Linked DNA regions of Homo sapiens. The protein of the gene in region 1 purifies or fractionates together with the protein of each later gene. This does not show direct contact. Each region holds a gene or a part of one and is shown on either strand. Other genes may lie near its edges.

What was found. Proteins that work in one complex are often made in the same cells at the same time.
Region 2: the proteins of INTS6 (region 1) and PPP2CB purify together in Homo sapiens (affinity purification with mass spectrometry; 3 studies listed by BioGRID and IntAct, with this or other methods). This does not show direct contact.
Region 3: the proteins of INTS6 (region 1) and POLR2B purify together in Homo sapiens (affinity purification with mass spectrometry; 3 studies listed by BioGRID and IntAct, with this or other methods). This does not show direct contact.
Region 4: the proteins of INTS6 (region 1) and INTS11 purify together in Homo sapiens (affinity purification with mass spectrometry; 3 studies listed by BioGRID, with this or other methods). This does not show direct contact.

Annotation. Positions count from the first base shown.
Region 1 is NC_000013.11:51,376,537-51,380,036, forward strand, and holds part of INTS6 (integrator complex subunit 6), read right to left. Parts: intron 3,037-3,500; coding exon 2,926-3,036; intron 1,919-2,925; coding exon 1,703-1,918; intron 1-1,702. UniProt on the Homo sapiens protein: Component of the integrator complex, a multiprotein complex that terminates RNA polymerase II (Pol II) transcription in the promoter-proximal region of genes.
Region 2 is NC_000008.11:30,788,819-30,792,318, forward strand, and holds part of PPP2CB (serine/threonine-protein phosphatase 2A catalytic subunit beta isoform), read right to left. Parts: intron 2,498-3,500; coding exon 2,379-2,497; intron 1-2,378.
Region 3 is NC_000004.12:56,985,396-56,988,895, forward strand, and holds part of POLR2B (DNA-directed RNA polymerase II subunit RPB2), read left to right. Parts: exon of another isoform or gene 1-62; intron 63-958; coding exon 959-1,031; intron 1,032-3,500. UniProt on the Homo sapiens protein: Catalytic core component of RNA polymerase II (Pol II), a DNA-dependent RNA polymerase which synthesizes mRNA precursors and many functional non-coding RNAs using the four ribonucleoside triphosphates as substrates.
Region 4 is NC_000001.11:1,314,661-1,318,160, forward strand, and holds part of INTS11 (integrator complex subunit 11), read right to left. Parts: intron 959-3,500; coding exon 860-958; intron 779-859; coding exon 744-778; intron 303-743; coding exon 164-302; intron 1-163.

The DNA of each region.
Region 1 (3,500 bases):
AGTATATAGTTTGATGAATGTTAGTAAATTTATAGTTGTGAAACCATCATCATAATCCATTTCCACCATCCCCAAGTTTGTTGTACCCACTTGCAGTCAATCACTATTCCTATCCCCAGGCAACCACGTGACTTGCTTTCTTTCTATGCTCCATTTTATAAATGGAATTTTGCAACGTCTAATCTTTTGTACTTGGCTTCTTTCAATTAGCATGATGTTTTTGAGATTCATTGACATTATTCATGTATCAGTAGTTTGTTCCTTTTTATTCCAGAGTAGTAGTCTATTATATGGACACACCACATCTTCTTTATCTATTCACCAGCTGATGGGCACTTGGACTGTTACAAGTTTTTGGCTATTATGAAAAATGCTGCCATGTTGGCATGCTAAGCCTACAAGTAGAATGACTGATTGTACAGCAAATTTATGTTTACACTTCTTAAGAAAATATCAACTATTTTCTATCAGTAATGTTAGGAGGGTTGCTCCACATTCTCATCAATCCCTGTATTTTTTGTCTTTTAAATTTTATTCATTCTAGCAGTTATGAAGTAGTATCTCGTTATGGTTTTAATTTGCATTTCCCTAATGGCTGATAAGGCTGAGTGTTACTTCATGTTCTTATTTGTATTTGCATATTTTCTTTGGTGAAATGTCTGTTCAAATATTTTGCCCATGTTTGTCCTTTTATTATTGAGTTATATGAATTCTTTATATATTTTGATACAAGTCCTTTATTTGATATGTGCTTTTCTCCCAAGCTGTAGCTTCCCTCTTCATTTTTAATGTTTCTTTTAAAGAGCAAAGTTTATTTTTTATTTTAATGAAATTCAATTTATCAACATTTTTGCTATGTGCTTTTAGAAATCTTTGCTAACTCAACATCACAAAGATTTTTTCCTATGTTTTCTTCTAGAAGTTTATAGTTTTTGTTCTTACATTTAAGATCACGACCACTTCAAATAATATGAGGTAATGGTCAAATTCATTATTTTGCATATGGATATCCAATTGTTCCATTTGTTTAAAAGACTGTCTTCTTATCCACTACCTTATTTTAATATCTTTGTTAAGAATTGACTGTGTGTGTGAGGGCCTACATCTAGACTCAATTCTGTTCCACTAATCTCCTATGTTTATCCTTATGATGGCACCACACTGCATGGATCACTGTAGTAAGTTTTACAATAAGTTTTAAAATCAGATGATATAAGTCTTCCAACTTTATTCTTCTAAAATTGTTTTGGCTATTCCAGGACCTTTACATTTCCATATAAATTTTAGAATCAGCTTGCCTATTTCTACAAAAAGGCTGCTGGGATAAAGATATCTGTAACCATGAGTACTCACAAAGCATTTTTGGATCATGCTGTGGGTCTAATAGGGTCATCAGTTTAAGTACAAAACTATAGTGAATTCTACCATCCACTACTGCAACTTAAAGCAATTTCTAAACCTCTGTTTTCTCATCTATAAAATAAACAAGTTAGTTTACTCTTCATCAATCTATCCATTCATTCACACACCATGTACACTGTTTTAATTCTAGCAGTGACAGTATAATGATCATTAGTCTACAAGAGTACAGAAGTACTCTTTAAAGTCTGGATAAACTGAATGTCAGAGTTAACAGAAAATGTGATTTATCCAGTAACATAACAGAACATAACTAGAGTAGCACTAAATTCATGATTATTACCTTATTCAGCAAAGCAACTTGGAACCCAGTGTATTCCTTCATATTAAGGTCTAGCAGTCTGTGAGGGACATCCTCTGAAATTCCCTGGAGGAGTTGTTGAAAATCTTTCCTATATGCCATTGATAAACCATGTGATCGGCTCCGGACTTTTATTCCAGTCTCCTGTACTACTTTTTTGCCTACAGATCCAATGACTCGATCAGATTCTATTTTGGCCTAAAGTAAAAATAAGTCAGAATTATCTTGATAAAATCTAAATTAATAAATCAGATACTAATGGTTATGATCTTCTATAAATTAAATATATATTTTTTAAGTATATAAGAAGTTAAAAACTCAAGTAGCATAGTTTATGTCAAGTATTGGGTAAATTAAACATAGTTTAAACAACAATGTCTTATGATTTTAAATCATTACAACTCTAAACTTTTGGAGCAGGACAAACACAATTTCAATTTATTATTTTATTTATTAATACCCACTATACCTAAACCATGAAATATAAATGCACACTAAACAAAAATGTGTATTCCCAATTCAGGGGTGACGGTAAATTATTTTTTTAAAATCATCATTATGTAAGACATTTTTACTAGCACATCAATATGGCAAATAATTATGCAGTTCTTCCCTGGAAAGCAAGAAGCAATGTTTTGACTCCTCCCAAACTGCCTTTTGATTTGTAGTTAAGGTAGCAATGTCAGAAGTACTGGAGAAATAATGTATTTCATAGGACATTAATAATTTCACAGTCAGTTAAACTATATACTGCTTGACTACTATAGTATTTATTAATGTGACTTATGGCCAGAATGACAAAATTCAGTGTTTTCTACAAACATTTCAAAGAAACTCCCATTCTGAAAGAAAAATCTGCAGGTTTCAAAACATAAAGAGTTTTTTTTTTCTTTTTTAAGGAAAAATGACTTTCTAATCTAAATTTCTCAAAAGATAAATAATGTTCACATATAGCAAGTCTAGGACCACACTCATGAAGCCATTTTCATAAATTAGGAATTATTATATAATTTTCAAATTAATGTTTCAAAACATAGCACACCATGGATGTGAGACAGAATTATGTAATATATGGCTCTAAAATGTAATATATTAATATAATGGAATTCCATTAGAACCATCAAGAACTAGCTTTTAACCTGTTTAACCATCCTAGCCAAAACCATTCAAAATACTTAATGGCTCACTCTATTTCTTGATATTACCTGTTGACTCAGTTTTTTGAGGTATGAAATGACACTGTAACTAAGTCCATATTCCATACTGTCTGCTATTAGGTTAGGTGCTCCCATCATCCTAACAGCTTTCTTCAAGGGCTATAGGAAAAAAGAAAACATCATTCAATATTAAGCTTATTAAAAACTTATGGTTCCATGTATAGTCTGTCTTAAAATTTTCTCCAAAAAATTATTTCCCCTTCTTTTCCTCAATAAGGAAGTAACACAATCGTATTTATGTTTCAGTAAAATGTTTGTCAGTGGGATGAAAGGCCGTTTGAAGTAGTTAAAAAGGATTAGAGGCCATAATAACTCCCCAAGACAAGAAGGATAAGATACTGGTCTTCCTTGGTACCACTGGGAGAAACTAGGTTTGGAATAAATGGACAGAAGACACATTCTAGAGGTAGCTCTGATAAAACATGGGTAGTAAGTGAAAAACACTCAAGGAAAATGCAAGATTTCTACTTTTGAGTAATTAGCTGCTCAACCACTCACTAGTTATATGATTCTAGATCAGATTATAAATAAGCTCTCTGGCTCTCTGTGGCTTAGTTTCTCAT
Region 2 (3,500 bases), on another chromosome or scaffold:
TTCCTGTGTAGAGGTCACACTTCCTTGTTCTTTCCATGTCTTATAATCTGTGGTTGAAAAATTGGACATTATAGATAACATATTGCAGTAGCTCTGGAATTCATGTCCTTGGGGACTGATCTTGTCTTTTTGGTGGTTTATTATTTTTGTTTAGTGACTTAGCTGAACTAACTGTAAAGTCTACTTCCCCCATAGTGTGCAGCCCCTGTGGCCCTGCTCGGATGTTTTTACTTTTTTTTTTTTTTTTTGAGTTTCACTTTTGTTGCCCAGGCTGGACTGCAATGGCGTGATCGCCGCCGCCTCCCAGGTTCAAGCGATTCTCCTGCCTCAGCCTCCTGAGTAGCTGGGATTACAGGCATGCGCCACCACACCCAACTAATTTTGTATTTTTAATAGAGACTGGGTTTCTCCATGTTGGTCAGGCTGGTCTTGAACTCCCGACCTCAGGTGATCCGCCCACCTCGGCTTCCCAAAGTGCTGGGATTACAGGCATGAGCCACCGTGCCTGACCGTTTTTACTTCTTTTAATCTTTCACAGCCTGGCTACTGAGGGGCTGTCTCTGGGTAGGCATAAGCCACTTACTGATCAAAGATTGTACTTAAGCCCCCTTGGCCAGTTAGATCTTAAAGCTCACCCTAATGGCCACCGGAAATGTTATGTGACTTGCAGATTGCTATCAAAGCTGAAGGAGTTTATATTTTGGCTTCCCATTCAGCCAGGGACTAATAGTTGGATCTTCATACTGCACTCAGTCCAGAGAGGGTATAACCTTGGGCATGCACATATTCTGCCAGACTGTCAGGGATGAGTGTGATTTTATTTTAAAGCCTGACTACCTAGGAGGTGCTCCTGGATCAGAGTAACTGAATGTCGTTCAGTCAATGATGAGAGGTTGTGTTTAAGCCTCACATACTAGTGATGGTTACACCATTTGTTGATCAATCTACTTATCCATTTCCTGGGGCTGCCGTAACAAATTACCGAACTGTATAGCTTATACAACGGGGATTTATCCTCTCACAGTTCTGGAGGCTACAAGTCTGAAAGCAAGATGCTGGGAGGACCACGCTCTCTCTGAAGGCTCTAGGAAAAATCCTTCCTAGCCTCTCCCTAGCTTCTGATGGCTCTGGCAATCCTTAGCTGGTAGATGCATCACTTGAATCTCTGGCTTCACACAGCATTCTCCCCTGTGTGTGTTTCTTTTCCTCTTACTAAAATCCCATTCGAATTGGATTTAGGCCCACCCTAATCCAGTACAATCTCATCTTTAATAATTATATCTGTAAAGATCCTATTTCCAAATAACATCACATTTTGAGGTTCTGGGTGGACATGAATTTTTTTGGGGGGACATTATTCAACTCAGTACAATCTATGTGTGGCTTGAAAATATTATATGAATACCCCACATCCTACTCTTGACTGCTCCTGAGTGGGTATGGCTAGTGCATGTGCACAGCCTTCTTGTCCCCCAGGGCTGACTGTGATCCCAGAAGGGCTCTTCTTGGCTTTTTCCCTGGTGCTATTTGTTGAACAACATGTTGCTCTGCTCTTTTGTATGTTGCTCCTAGTATCATGGGAGCTATTACAGCCCTCTTAATTGGTCTCCACCATGACATCTACTGCTTTCCACAAAGCACTCAGATTTGGAATTCTCCATCACCTAAGTAAGATAAGTCCTCTGAGGCAGAGCTGAGGAACTTCTGTGACCTGCCTTTCCTCCTGAGCAGAACTTCTGTGCCAGTGCAGGCTCAGTGATACCACCTGGTTTATAAGCAGGTGCTGGGGTAACAGCATTGGGAAACCCAGCATTCTCATCTGCCATGCATGCCTGGAGCAGAGCTTCTGCCCCAGGAGCTGGGGCAGGGAAGGGGGCCTCAGCCTGCTTGACTGTGTCTACCAGGAGTAGAGCTTTTGTAACTCCAGACTAGGAGAGGTGAGATATGCTGGCATCTGATCTCTGGGAGTGAACCCACAGCCCCAGCCCTGGGAGCTGATGAAGAGGGGGAATCCCTTAGCCTCCTGACTATACCAACCCAGCGTAGAGCGCCTGTAGTCGTTTCTGTGAGAGGGATCTGGGAGGAGTTGGAGGGGGCAAGTCATAGCTCAAATGCCACAGACTACGGCTATTATTACTGAGATTTAGTAGGTTTTCTTGAATTAACTGTTTCTCCACCTGCTGTATGCCCTTAGGACAATTTCCAAAAGCTTTGAAAAATTATTTTTTAAAAATAATGTTCTCCAGCTAATGGTTATTTTTGCTGGAGAGGGGCTTTGCTATACTCCTCATCCAATTTCAGAAACAGAAATCTTCTATTTTTAACATTTAAAATTTTCCTTCTGAAAGTATATACAATTAAAATTTACAGTTACTCACAAGGAATATTTTAAAGTGTCATCTAATTCCATGATAGCAGCCTGGTTCCCACAACGATAACAGTAATTGGGTGCACTGAAAATGGTAACCACATTCCGATCATGACACCAATTGTATCCCTGCAGGATAAAAACAAATTCATTATTTCATTATAATATTATGATTTTGACACAGACACATTTAAAAAAAACTAAACTCAAAAACTACAGGTACTCTCTGTGGAAATGTAGTCGTCTATATTACTATATAAGGTCTCCATCTTTAATAGTTTGTGTACCTGTAAAGAATACTGTGCAATTCGTGGGCCTAGGAGTCTGTTAAATGCAGCTCGCTAATTGTTGTTTTGCCGTATCTATGCTTGAAATCTTGGCAAGGATGTGTACTGAATTTCTCCCACAATCATAATTAATTTCTCAATTTTCCCTCATGAATTATGCCAATTTTTTCTTTATATATTTTGAAGCTATTACTAGGTAAATACAAATTTAGAATACTTTCTTCCTAGAGAACTGGGCCAGTTTTCATCAATAATCTCTTTATTTCTAATAATACCTTTTATTAGAGCCTATCTCATTCATATTATTAGCTATAGTATTATATATAGTGTGTATACATACATGCTAATTAATGTATGTGTATATACATATGTATATATACGTGTATATATGTATATATGTGTGTGCATATATGTATACATGTGTATATACATGTGTATATACATACACGTATATATGTATGTATACATGTATGTGTGCGCATATATGTATACGTGTGTATATGTGTATATATACGTGTGCATATATGTATACACACATACATGTGTGTATATATGTATACATATATATACATACATTAGTGTATGTATGTGTGTATATACACACACACACACATCCTGTGTTGCCCAGGCTGGAGTGCAGTGGTGCGATCTAGACTCACTGCAACCTCCAACTCCTGGGTTCAAGCAATTCTCCTGCCTCAGCCCCGAGTAGTTGGGACTACAGGTGCGTGCCACCACACCAGGTTAATTTTTTGTATTTTAGTAGAGACAGGATCTCACCATGTTGCCCAGGCTGGTCTCGAACTCCTGAGCTCCAGCAATCCGCTTGCCTCAGCCTCCCAAAG
Region 3 (3,500 bases), on another chromosome or scaffold:
GTGGCGAGGCGGGGATGGCACTCCCCCCCGCCGCCCCGTGGGGCGGCCCCGACTTTCGGGCGGTGAGTGAGAGGCGGGCCCTGCAACCTCTGTCTCCTGGGTTCAAGCAATTCTCTTGCCTCAGCCTCCTGAGTAGCTGGGATTACAGGCATGTGCCACCCTGCCTGGCTAATTTTTGTCTTTTTTAGTAGAGACAGGGTTTTGCCATATTGGCCTGGCTGGTCTCGAACTCCTGACCTCAGGTGATCCACCGACCTTGGCCTCCCAAAGTGCTAGGATTACAGGCCTGAGCCACCCCTACTTTTTAATGACAGCTCAGGGCTCCAGAAGGAAGTGTTTTAGCAAACATGACAGAAACTTCATTGCCTTTTCTGACCTGGCTTCTGAAGTCATGCAGCATTGCTTCAGCTGCATTCTCTTAAGTTACAGGAGAGTCAAAATCTACCCGATTCAAGGAGAGGGTGCATAGACCACTATATGTGATGATAGGAGTGTCAAGATCACATTATAGAAGACCATGTCGGATGGGAGATAGGCTTGTGGCCATCTTTGGAAAATGCAAACTTTCATACCTGTACATGTATGAAATGTTGCTATAATAGATTGCCCCACCTTAGGGTATTGCCCAGTTGTTGGAATCCTTCCATGGCTCTGCCCCCTTACCCTGTTCTCTGACTCTAGTGTCTGAAAATCTTGCTGATCAATAAAATGGAAAACTTAACATTCATACAACTTACATTGAACCTTTCTAATAAACCTCTTTTTATATTGGAAGAATACCTGTGTGACATAGACATAAATTATTTTATTAATGTAATTGAAATTTTAGAAAAGTGGGGTGAAAGCATTACTTATTCAGCAGAAAGTAAATATGTTTCTGCTACTTAAAGTCATAGGAGCAAGATGTTAACTAAGTGGCATCTCATTGCAAATGAGTACAATATTTTTGTTTTTACAGATATGCAATATGATGAGGATGATGATGAAATCACCCCGGATTTGTGGCAAGAAGCATGCTGGATTGTAATCAGGTAACTTTGGACCAAACTGAATTAGCCTGAAAAGGCACTTTAGATTTCCTGCTTATTCTTCTTGATAAATAGCTCTTCTATATAAATATGCTACATGAGAGTAGTTATTTTATTTATATATTTAACATTTTAAGTATTTCAGATCTAAAAGTTACACAAAGAATTCATTTAATCATTTTAACCAGATTCCGAAAATGTTACCCTGTACTACATTTCTTTGTCTTTTTCTCTTTTTGTATATATATATTTTTTTCTGAAACATGTGAGAGTAACTTGCAGATCATTTGACCCTGGGAGGTTGAGGTTACAGTGAGCGAAGGTCGCACCGCTGCACTCCAGTCTTGGTGATAGAGTGAGACCCTGTTTCCAAAAAAAAAAAAGAATAACTGCAGACATAAGAACATTCTTTTACATAATCACAATTATGGTGATCTTATTTAATCTATAGACCTTACCCACATTTTGCCAGTTGTCCCACTGGTGTTTATAGCAAAATACAAATTTTTCTGATCCTGGATCCAACCTAGGATCACATATTGCATTTACTTGTCATGGCATGTTCTTTTGTTTCCTTTAATCTGGAACAGTTCCTCAGTGTGTCTGTTCTTTTTTTTACCTTGACATTTTTGAAGAATACGGGCCAGTTACTTTTTAGGATGCCTTTCCGTTTAGGTTTGTCTGATATTTCTCATAATTAGATTCAGATGATTACTTTTGGCAGAAGTGACATAGTCTCAGTGCATCATATCAGGAGGCATGTTTGTTTCATTACTAGTAATGTTAATTTGATTGCTTGGTTTTCTCATTATTTTAAATGGACAAAGTTAAAATTGGTTGTATTTCATTCCAAATTCCCATCCAATTCTAAGTGTAACTAAATGTAATAAAATTACGAGAAGCCTTGTATAGGTAAGAAAAGTAACTTATAAGTGATAAAGTAACATCCTGTAAGGTTAGGATGTTAAAGGCTTATAACTCTTCTCTCTCTTCTCTCATCCCCTGACACCTGTTTTATATACAATAAGATGATGATGGATGCCTCTCTGAGCCCCATCAGCTCCAAGGTGCATGTCCTTTTGGTCAACATTCTCTCTTTTCAAAGAACACATGCTTCCAACATTCTGCCAGTTGTATTCAGAGTATAACTGAATAACCTTTCTTGAACGTTGTTTTGTGAAAGAGATACTGATTTGCCTATAATCCCAGCACTTTGGGATGCTGAGGCAGTCAGATCACTTGAGGTCAGGAGTTGGAGACCAGCCTGGCCAACATAGTGAAGCTCCGTCTTTACTAAAAAATACAAAAATTAGATGGGTGTGGTGGCGCACACCTGTAATCCCAGCTACTTGGGAGGCTGAGGCAGGAGAATCACCTGAAATTGGGAGGCAGAGTTTGCAGTTAGCTGAGATGATGTCACTGCACTCCAGCCTGGGTGGCAGAGTGAGACTCTGTCTCAAAAAAAAAAAGATGTTGATTCAGCATGTTGTCCAGAATCTTACAAAAAAAAGTATTGAAAGCCAGGTGCTGTGGTGTGTGCCTATATAGTCCCAGCTACCTGGGAGGCTGAGGCAGAAGGATCACTTGAGCTCAGGAGTTTGAGTGTTGCCTGGGTAACATAGTGAGACCTTGTCTCTAAAAATAAATAATTAAAAAATATATATTGAGTTTTTGGGATATAAGTATATATTTTTCCATAAGGAGTTGATGGTGAGGATAGGAGCTCTGTTTCTGGTGGCAGGGTTTGGAGAAGGGGCCGGGGCGGCAGTTGCCATGTTTGGTTGCAAAGGTAGCAAGAAGCCCCTGAAACAGCCCAAGAAGCAGGCCAAGGAGATGGACGAGGAAGATACAGCTTTCAAGCAGAAACAAAAAGAGGAGCAGAAAAAGCTTTAAAATAGAAGGCTGTGGGGAAAGGGCCCCTGGCCACAGGTAGAATTAAGAAATTTGACAAAAAGTCTTGGCGAGGTGGCTCGCACCTGCCCGTAATCCCAACACTTTGGGAGGCTGAGGCCGGTGGATGACTTGAGCTCAGGAGTTTGAGACCAGCCTATGCAACATAGCCAGACCCTGTCTATCTCTTTTTTTTTTAAAGAAAGAAAAAAAGAGAAATCTGGCAAAAAGTCAGCTTTTCATTGTGCCTGAGGTGATGGTGACCTTTGATTCCATTTGTATTTAAACATCTGTATTCCCTGCCATAATATCTTTTGCCACCTATAGCTAGAATGAAGCATTGTCCTGGAGCCATTTAAGAGTAAACTTTTGTAAACACAAAAAATAAAACAAATTGGCTGTAGAAGACTAAACTTTACTGAGACAGTTACATCTTCTGTGATGTTTGGGTGTTAAACACCAAGAGATATTTTATTAGGAAACAATAACCAGGTAGATGTTCTGTGGAGTGTGCCTATATTCTACATTCTCCCGGTAGAAAAAATATTTTATCTTAGGTGAAAAGAAGTTGTTTTCAACATA
Region 4 (3,500 bases), on another chromosome or scaffold:
TGAGTTTTCCTCCTCAATGTTGAGCAAATCTTCTTCCCTCCCTGCCTGAAAATGCAGTACCCCCCACCCTGAGACCCTGACCCATGCCAAGGGCAGCCAAGCCTGCCAGAAAGACCAGCCCAGCATGGCCGAGGGCCCATGTCCCCACCCCTGCTGCAGCTACCTTCCCACCACGCTCCACGGTCTCGTGGACTTTCTTCAGGAAGTCTCGCTCCCGGCAGCGCTTGGAGTCACGGATGGTCGTGGCGTACGTGGACTCTGTGATGAGCAGGTTGGGGCGGCACTTGTCAATCCAGGCAGCTCTGGAACACGGGGGTGGGGGTGTGAGCCACGATGCACTGTCCCCACGGTTGCAGGGCTGGGTGTGACAAGCTGGACCCCAGTACCACGCCCAGCCGCCTTCCTAGGTCACTCTGGCTGGAAAGAGCCAGCTGGTAAAATGCTGTGGGCAGCACACTTGGGAAGAGAGAGGAGAGACAGAGGCACCCACCCAGACACTTCGGAAGAGCGAGACAGAGGCACCCACCCAGAGACTTGGGAAGAGAGAGAAGGAGGGACAGAGGCCCCTGCCTGGACCCTGTGCCTTCGCGCATTTGGGCCCAGAACGAAGGGGGCTCTCCAGGCCGCACAGGACATGGGAGACACTGCCAGGCTGGCCACTCAAGGGCTGGCACCCTGACACCTGCAAGGGTCCTGAGCTCCAGGGGGGCCCACGGGACAAAAAGACACCTCAGCCTACTTACCCTAAGTGTCGGTCTGGGGTCATGTTATAATCACCCTGGTGAACGATCAAGGATGCCATGAGGAGGGTGCCTCCCACCCCAGCAGCCCCTCCCAAGCCTCAAGCCCTTCCACTGACCGTGTAGACCACAGACTCTGAGCCCACTTTAATCTGGAACATGGCTGCCCCCAGCACGTGGCCTGCATAGTAGGCCTTGATCTCCAGCTCATCATCTACCTGTGGAGGACAGGGCTGCGCTCAGGCTGTGTCCTCACAGCAGAGGGGCGGGGAGTGAGGGAGGCGGGGGACGGGAAGCGCGGGAGGCGGGGGTGGGGAGCGTGGGGGAAGGGGAGCGAGGGGGCGGGGGCGGGAGCGAGGGAGGTGGGGGCGGGGAGGGAGGGAGGGAGGCGGGCAGCGAGGGAGGCAGGGGCAGGGAGTGAGGGGGGCGGGGGCAGGGAGGGAGGCGGGGCGGGGAGCGAGGGCACTGCACTGAGCTTTTCAGTCCCTGTTGCTCACACACAGCATCCAGTTCACAAGGGACGGGCAACGTGGACAAAGAACGAAAGACAACGGACAAAAAACTGAAGGGACCTGAAATTGGAGTTTCCAGCGTGGACTTTGAATACATGACAGAGAAAAGACAAGGTTCAGAATGTTGGCGGCCAGGCCTAAGGTGGATCCCTTGGGGTCAGGAATTGGAGACCAGCCTGGCCAACATGGTGAAACCCCGTCTCTACTAAAAATACAAAAGTAAGCCAGGTGTGGAAGTGCGTGCCTGTAATCCCAACTGCTCAGGAGGCTGAGGCAGGAGAATCGCTTGAACCTGGGAAGTGGAGGTTGCAGTGTACTGAGATCACGCCACTGCACTCTAGCCTGGGCAATGGGGCGGGACTCCATCTCGGTAAAAACAAACAAAAAAATACTGGGCTGGGCACAGTGGCTCACACCTTTAATCCCAGCACTTGGGGAGACCAAGGTGGGCAGATCATCTGAAGTCAGGAGTTCAAGACCATCCTGGCCGACACGGTGAAACCCTGTCTCTACTAAAAATACAAAAGTTAGCTGGGCATGGTGGTGGGTGCTTGTAATCCCAGCTACTCAGTAGGCTAAGGCAGAATTACTTGAACCCGGGAGGCGGAGATTGCAGTGAGCTGAGATTGTGCCATTGCACTCCAGCCTGGGCAACAAGAGCGAGAGTGTCAAAAACAAAAATTGGCAAAAAACTAGACTTCTTTTAAATTTAATTTATTCATTTAAAACTTGCCGGGTGCGGTGGCTCATGCCTGTAATCCCAGCACTTTGGGAGGCTGAGGCGGGTGGATCACCTGAGGTTGGGAATTCAAGACCAGCCTGACCAACACGGAAAAAGCCCGTCTCTACTAAAAATACAAAATTAGCCGGATGTGGTGGTGTGCGCCTGTAATCCCAGCTACTCGGGAGGCTGAGGCAGGAGAACTGCTTGAACCCGGGAGGCGGAGGTTGCAGTAAGCCGAGATCGCGCCACTGCACTCCAGCCTGGGCGACAGAGCGAGACTGTGTCTCAAAAAAAAATAAATAAATAAAATTGAGAGACAGGGTGGGGCTGTCACCCAGGCTGCAGTGGCGCAATCATGGCTCACTCAAACTCCTGGGCTCAAGCGTCCTCCCGCCTCCACCTCCGCCTCCCAAATAGCTGGGACTATAGGCACGCACCCACCACGCCAGGCTAATTTAAAAACAAAATTTTGGCCAGGCGCAGTGGCTCACTCTTGTAATCCCAGCACTCTGGGAGACCAAGGCGGGTGGATCACCTGAGATCAGGAGTTCAAGACCAGCCTGACCAACATGGTGAAACCCCCGTCTCTACTAAAAAAAAATACAAAATTAACTGGGTGTGGTGGCACACGCCTGTAATCCCAGCTACTCGGGAGGCTGAGGCAGGAGAATCGCTTGAACCCAGAAGGCGGAGGTTCAAGGTGAGCTGAGATCGCACCACTGCACTACAGCCTGGGCAATGAGAGCGAAACTCCATCTCAAAAAAAAAAGAAAAAAAAAAAGAATTCAACAGATGAATTTAACACCATATGACACATAACCAGAAGAGAATCCATGAACTGAAAGACACCAGAGGGAATATCCATCAGGAAACAGGAAAGACAAACAGATGACGGAGTTTCAAGAGGTTGAACGTCAGGCTCTCGGGGTCCCTGGAGGAGCAGGAACGGGGCAGAAACAACACTGGAAGAAACATGATGAAGGCCTCAAGCCACAGATCCAAGAGGCCTCAAACTCTAAACAGGCTGAGGATACATGTCAGCCCATCAGAGCACAAGCACCAAAAACCAAGGCTCCTGCTCAGACCCTACGGCTGCCCATGCCCAGAGACAGAACGTTGTTTGCAAAGTGCAGAGACAAAATACTGTCAACCTAAAATCTTACACACCTAAGGGAAAAAAAGTCCTTTAAGAACGAGGATAAAGTAAATCCATTTGCAGGCAAATAAATTTTTTTTTTTTGAGCCGGAGTCTCGCGTCTCGCTCTGTCTCCCAGGCTGGAGTGCAGTGGTGGGATCTTGGCTCACTGCAAGCTCCGCCTCCCAGGTTCACGCCATTCTCCTGCCTTTCAGCCTCCCGAGTAGCTGGGACTGCAGGCGCCCGCACCACGCCCAGCTAATTTTTTTGTATTTTGTTTAGTAGAGACAGGGTTTCACCGTGTTAGCCAGGATGGTCTCGATCTCCTGACCTCGTGATCCGCCTGTCTCGGCCTCCCAAAGTGCTGGGATTACAGGCGTGAGCCACCG